2 linked regions of the Homo sapiens genome follow. The protein of the gene in region 1 interacts with the protein of each later gene in a pairwise test. Each region holds a gene or a part of one and is shown in the gene's direction. Other genes may lie near its edges.

What was found. Proteins that work in one complex are often made in the same cells at the same time.
Region 2: the proteins of NUDT3 (region 1) and OAT interact in a two-hybrid assay, tested with the Homo sapiens proteins (one large-scale study listed by BioGRID and IntAct).

The regions. Positions count from the first base shown.
Region 1 is NC_000006.12:34,382,670-34,386,169, reverse strand, and holds part of NUDT3 (diphosphoinositol polyphosphate phosphohydrolase 1), read left to right. Parts: intron 1-3,500. UniProt on the Homo sapiens protein: Cleaves a beta-phosphate from the diphosphate groups in PP-InsP5 (diphosphoinositol pentakisphosphate) and [PP]2-InsP4 (bisdiphosphoinositol tetrakisphosphate), suggesting that it may play a role in signal transduction.
Region 2 is NC_000010.11:124,398,520-124,401,923, reverse strand, and holds part of OAT (ornithine aminotransferase, mitochondrial isoform 1 precursor), read left to right. Parts: intron 1-84; coding exon 85-198; intron 199-939; coding exon 940-1,084; intron 1,085-3,404. UniProt on the Homo sapiens protein: Catalyzes the reversible interconversion of L-ornithine and 2-oxoglutarate to L-glutamate semialdehyde and L-glutamate.

The DNA.
Region 1 (3,500 bases):
CACTGAATGCTTGGCTGTTACACAGCAGGCTGCTGGGTCTGGTGTACCCCAACCAGGTGGCCTCCCAGCTGCCAAATTGTGTGATTACAATTAGTTACCTCTATTCCTTTATCTGTTTATGTTCATTGTACTTGTTATTGTAATTGTGCAACTTAACCAGTGAACTTTGAGTTCAGAAAAGAACAAGGCTCAGCATGGTGGCTCACGCCTATAATCCCAGCACTTTGGGAGACCAAGGTGGGCGGATCACATGAGCCCAGGAATTTGAGACCAACCTAGGCAACATGGTGAAACCCCCTCTTTACTGAAAATACAAAACTAGCCAGGCACGGTGGTGTGCAGCCTGTAGTCCCAGCTACATGGGAGGCTGAGGCACAAGAATTGCTTGAACCCAGGAGACGGAGGTTGCAGTGAGCCAACAGCACGCCACTGCACTCCAGCCTAGGTGACAGAGTAAGAGTCTGTCTCAAAAAAAAAAAAAAAGAAATTACTGCTCACTTATATGGACAAACAAACTGAGAAGACTGGAGAGGGGATCTTAAAAGTCTAGAAGGACTCTGCACATAGATTACTTCATGAATGTTTTTAGGTTTTTGTTCTTTATAAAAACTAGGACTGGAAAACATAGGTCATTGATTATGGATGTGGCATATGAAAGAAAGACAACTTAACAATTCAAACAAACAAAACAAAACAAGATCTTGGCCCTACAAAGATTACCAAATAACTACATGTTTATATACATATAAAAGATTTATTTGCTAATAATATGTAATATGGTCTCGAACTCCCGACCTCAGGTGATCCGCCCGCCTCGGCCTCCCAAAGTGCTGGGATTATAGGCATGAGCCACTGTGCCTGGCCATATTTTTTATTTTTTGTAGAGATGAGGTCTCATGTTTCCCAGACTGGTCTGGAACTCCTGGCTCAAGTGATCCTCCCTTCTTGGCCTCCCAAAGTGTTGAGATTATAGGCATGAGCCATCACATCTGGCCTGATTATTTAATATTTTCATTTGCTTCCTCTTTGCACATAATATATAATTAGTAATATATAAAGTATGTATATATAAATGTATATTTATCTGCTAATCTTTGTTCTTAGGGCCAAGATCTTGTTTTGAGTTTTTTTTTTTTTTTTGGAGGCAGGGTCTTGCTCTGTTGACCAGGCTGGAATGCAGTAATGCGATCTCAGGTCACTGCAGCTTCCACCTCCCAGGCTCAAGTGATCCTCCCACCTCAGCCTCCCAAGTAGATGGAAGTACAAGTGCCTGCCACCTTGCCCAGCTATTTTGTGTGTGTGTGGAGACAGGGTCTCACTATGTTACTCAGGCTGGTTTTGAACTCCTGAGCTCAAGCGATCCTCCCACCTCAGCCTCCCAAAGTGCTAGGATTACATGCATGAGACACCACGCCCAACCTACATTTATATTTTTTAATCAACCGTATCCTTTACTTGATACTTTATCATACACTGTGTGGAAGACTGTAACTTCTTGAGTAAGATTTTATAATCCAAAATTGGGTAATATGATATTCATCTGTCATATTATTCAACTTTGGCCCTGCTAAAGTACTTCCAGTGAGATTATCCCTCTTCCCCCAGCCTTTCCTTTTTTAGAGCCTCTGTGAGGAGAAGTGAGAGACAGGGATGGGCTTGTTTGTACTCTTAGAAAGGCCAAATGATACAGAACATACAACAAATGACATCACAGTGCCTAGGAAAGTTAAAGCTGCTCCTAACGGGTCTGTTTTTACCCAGGGAGAAAAATGACTACTAATAGGATTGTGTGAGTTAGATTTCCCTGTGCCTTAAAGCTGTTTTAATAAAGAAAGGATGAAGCTGTTCCTAAGTTGTTAGGTTCGTTTGTTGTACTTTTCCACTAGAAGCCCTATATCTCTTGGCAAAGGGGAGCTGCTTCACATTTTCTCAGATCCTTCAGCTCACCAGGTTGGAACGGAGAGATGATTGACATTGGAGCTCTTCAGTGGGCAGAGACTGGTGGCCTGTTTGTCTGTAAAATGCCCCAGAGGAGCAGGTGGACTGACGTCTCTGCAGACTGCACCTTCCAGCAGGCTCTAGAGAAGAGAGTAAGACACAGGTAGCAATCCCAGAGGCAATAATCATGACAAAGGGCTTCCAGCAGATCCCAAGGTGGTTTGGGAGTCCTTTTGTAACACATCTTGGTCACCGTTCAATATTACATTGCTCTAAGATCATGATGGGTTCATTGATCCCGTCATGACTGGACATTTCTGCTTCTCATTTCTCAAAATCTTTCCTGGAAGCTTTTTTCCCCTGCTTTCCCTTCTGTTTGCCTAATACCAGTTAGTCATGTCTTCCATTACGTTATTTTTTGCCTCCTTCCCAAGGTGTGAATTCTGGTCTGAATTCATACTGCAGTCTCCATTCTTTTTATGTCTTTGCCCCAATCCTACTTCTTTGTTTCTGCTTTAATTCTCATTTCTCAATAAAAATAGTGCTGCACATCTACTGTGTGCTGTGTCTGAAGCAATCTATATCTTCATAGCCTAGTACAGAAAGGAAGGGCCCTTGTTCAGGAATACAATTGTTTATTCATTTCTTCAGCACACATTTTTGGAGTGTCTGTGTAAGACCTTGGGAATACATGGATAAATAAGACTGCTCAGCATTTTGGGAGGCCTACGTGGGAGGATCGCTTGAGCTGGGGATGTCTAGGATGTGGTGAGCTGTGTTTGCATCACTGCACTCCAGCCTGGGCAACAGAGTGAGAGAGACCCTGGCTCCAAAAAGAAAACACCATAAAATGAAATGATCCCTTAAATAGACTTCCTTTGTATACAATTAGTTGATCTCTTTGTTCATAAAACAGTAAAGTTTTATGAACTGCTTAGAAAATCTTTTCTTCGGCTTGGTTATTTAACATATTTCTGATGTGTTTTGTAAGAGCAGCTTAGCAATGATGAATAAAAAGGAGTATGAGCTCAGACATAGTGCTTATGCTTTTCTTAAAAGGAGGAAGGATTGTGATTTTTCTTTTTTCCTTTTTTTTTTTTTTTTTGAGATGGAGTCTTGCCCTGTCACCCAGGCTGGAGTGCAATGGCGCCATCTTGGCTCACTGCAACCTCCGCCTCCCAGGTTCAAACGATTCTCCTGCCTCAGCCTCCCGAGTAGCTGGGATTACAGGTGCCTGCCACCGCACCCAGCTAATTTTTGCAGTTTTAGTAGAGATAGGGGTTTCACCACCTTAGCCAGGCTGGTCTCGAACTCCTGACCTTGTGATCCACCCTCCTCGGCCTCCCAAAGTGCTAGGATTACAGGTGAGAACCACCGCGCCCGGCCTTTCCTTTTTTTTTTGAGACAGGGTCTTGCTCTGTCATCCAGGTTGGTGTGCTGTGATGCAGTCATGGCTAACTGCAGCCTTGACCTCCTGAGCTCAAGCGATCCTCCTTCCTCAGCCTCCCGTGTAGCTAAGATTACAGGCATGCACCACCATGCCTGGCTAATTTATTTTTAGT
Region 2 (3,404 bases), on another chromosome or scaffold:
GGTGACAGCGAGACTCTGGGGAAAAGGATGCTTAGTAGAATGCTTAGTGCTGAGAAATGACATGGTGAATTGACTGTCTTTCAGGTGTCTGCAGTGCTGTGTGATGATGACATCATGCTGACCATTAAGCCAGGGGAGCATGGGTCCACATACGGTGGCAATCCACTAGGCTGCCGAGTGGCCATCGCAGCCCTTGAGGTAAAGACTGATACAGCCACACAGTGTCTATTCTTTAAAGCAATGTTGAAGTGATTTTTAATTTGGGCCCACTGGTATAATAAAAAATTCAATAAGAATGCCAAATATTAGAAAACATGAAGTATAGAGGAAAAATTTTAGGAACAAGATATTCTCAAAAAGTAATTTAAACTTGGCCTAGTAGACTGGATTTCCTCCGTGGGCTTCCTGAGTTCACAGTCACCTGGCGCTTTGAGTTCTTCGGCCCTGGCTGGCCCTCATAGAACTCTCAACTGTGACCCACCTACCAGACCCGTCTTTTTGCTTAGCAAGCAAGTCTTCTTTCAAGTGTGGATTTATAATGTTTTCAGACTGATTTTTTAAGTGCCTGCTGAAGGTATACAATTATTATGTAATCTCTGAGGACAGATCTTTGTGAGGGGGGAAGAAACTATTGCAGTTTAGGAATTACATTTCGTCCATTGATGTATTCAATTAATGACAGTATGTGAGTTGCATTAAATAAACTTTAATCCTTATTTTGCCATGAATGATTGGCAATAGATTTGTGATGAAAGCAAGACTCTGAGCTAGTGTATGTTTAATTAGAAACTAATACAGGCTTTGAAAAATAGCAATGAAAGTTAAGTTCCTCTGGTATTTTATCTAGTCATGTTTTTCCTGTGTTTACAGTCCCCGTTGTCCTCCAAAAAACAAAAAAAGGACAGTCTTAATATTTGTATAATTTTTCTTTAAACGTAGGTTTTAGAAGAAGAAAACCTTGCTGAAAATGCAGACAAATTGGGCATTATCTTGAGAAATGAACTCATGAAGCTACCTTCTGATGTTGTAACTGCCGTAAGAGGAAAAGGATTATTAAACGCTATTGTCATTAAAGAAACCAAAGGTATGGAGATAAAACATTTACTCAAGATAATTTTTTAAGGAAGACCTAAAATACACTTGGTATTTAATTTAATTAATTTATTTATTTTTCGAGACGGAGTCTTGCTCTGTCTCCTAGGCTGCAGTGCCGTGGCGCAATCTTGGCTCACTGCACTCTGCCTCCTGGGTTCAAGCAATTCTCTGCCTCAGCCTCCTGAGTAGCTGGGATTACAGGCGCCTGTCACCACGCCCAGCTAATCTTTATATTTTTAATAGAGATGGGGTTTCATAATGTTGGCCAGGCTGATCTCAAACTCCTGACCTCGTGATCCACCTGCGTTGGCCTCCCAAAGTGTTGGGATTATAGGCGTGAGCCCACCGCGCCCGGCCACACTTTTTTTTTTTTTTTTTTTTTAAGATGGAGTCTTGCTCTGTTGCCAGGCTGGAGTGCAATGGCGCCATTTTGGCTGACTGCAACTTCCGATGCCCCGGTTCAAGCGATTCTCCTGCCTCAGCCTCCCGAGTAGCTGGTATTACAGGCACGTGCCAACACGCCCAGCTAATTTTTGTATTTTTGGTAGAGATGGGGTTTCACCATGTTGGCCAGGGTGGTCTCGATCTCCTGACCTCGTGATCCGCCTGCCTCAGCCTCTGAAAGTGCTGAGATGACAGGCATGAGCCACTGCTCCTGGCCACACTTGGTATTTTAATTGGGTGTTGGGATGTTCTGTTTGAAACTGCTGACTGACATAATGACCAAACCTTTTAGACAGATTATTGTCTGATTTATAATTATATTAAGAGTATAAAAAATATAGCTCTTTTCTAAATGAAGGCACATTTAACCAATTTGACCCTTGTTCCTTTAAGACACTTATTTTTCTGCCTTAAATTAGTCATGCAGTATTTAGAGAGTTCAAGTTTTTTTGTTGGTGAGTCTGGACTTGAAAGTGTCCTCTTTGCTATCCTTCCCTCCCTCACTTTGATGCTTTGTGTCAGTAGAGGTTATAGGAGCAGCAGAAATAATGATATGAATGACAGTTATGGGGTCAATAATAAAAATAATGCTGGCTGTCACTTAATTGGGTGTTTGATGTTTTAGTACATCCTTTGTAACCCTTAGGTGTTCCTTGCTGGATTTTCTTGTGATAACTCTTCCTTTTAAAGCAACGATTCCAACCTCCCAACCTTGGCTGCACTTAAAGAATCACCTGAGGGGCCGGGCGCGGTGTCTTATGCCTGTAATCCCAGCACTTTGGGAGGCCGAGACGGGTGGATCACGAGGTTAGGAGATCGAGACCATCCTGGCTAACACAGTGAAACCCCATCTCTACTAAAAATACAAAAAAATAGCCAGGCGAGGTGGTGGGTGCCTGTAGTCCCAGCTACTCAGGAGGCTGAGGCAGGAGAATCGCTTGAACCTGGGAGGTGGAGCTTGCAGTGAGCTGAGATTGCGCCGCTGCACTCCAGCCTGGGCGGCAGAGTGAGACTCCGTCTCAAAAAAAAAAAAAAAAAAAAAAAAAGAATCACCTGGGGAGCTTCTTAAAAAAATGAGTCAAAGCCTGGCCTTACCCCAGGGATTCTGATTTGACGGATCTGGGACGGGGCACAGGCATTAGCAATAGCCTTTAAGGTGATTCTGATGTGCAGCCAGGTTGAGAATCGCTGCTATAATATGTTGAGCTCAGGAAGCGAGTCCCTTTTTGGAATGTGTAGTGTTCACTGGGTTTTGAGTATTGCCCATTTTATGTCAGTTAATCATCTGTATCATACCCAAGTTCTTTTTTTTCTTTTTTAGAATTTTATTTATTTTATTTATTTTATTTTTTGAGACAGTGCCTTGCTCTGTTGGGCTGGAGTGTCTGTCGCCAGGCTGGAGTACAGTGGCATGATCTTGGCTCACTGCGACCTCCACTTCCTGGGTTCAAGCGATTCTCCTGCCTCAGCCTCCTGAGTAGCTGGGACTACAGGCATGTGCCACACCACGACAGGCTAATTTTTGTATTTTTATTAGAGATGGGGTTTCACCATGTTGGCCAGGATGGTCTCGATCTCTTGACCTCATGATCTGCCCACCTCGGCCTCCCAAAGTGCTGGGATTACAGGTGTGAGCCACTGCATCCAGCCTATACCCAAGTTCTTTTGCATTAGTTCCTTGTGTGATTAATACAGCAGCCTTAGCACATTTTTTTTTTTTTTTTTGGCTTGGTCTTTTTCATTTATGAAAAACTATGATATGTCTAATCATATCATTCAAACCTAGTTATGTGCTTGCTGAAAAGTGAAGAGTAACTTCATTTTTAGGAGTAAAAACAAAGCAAGCTTGCAGCTCCAAGCTTCCC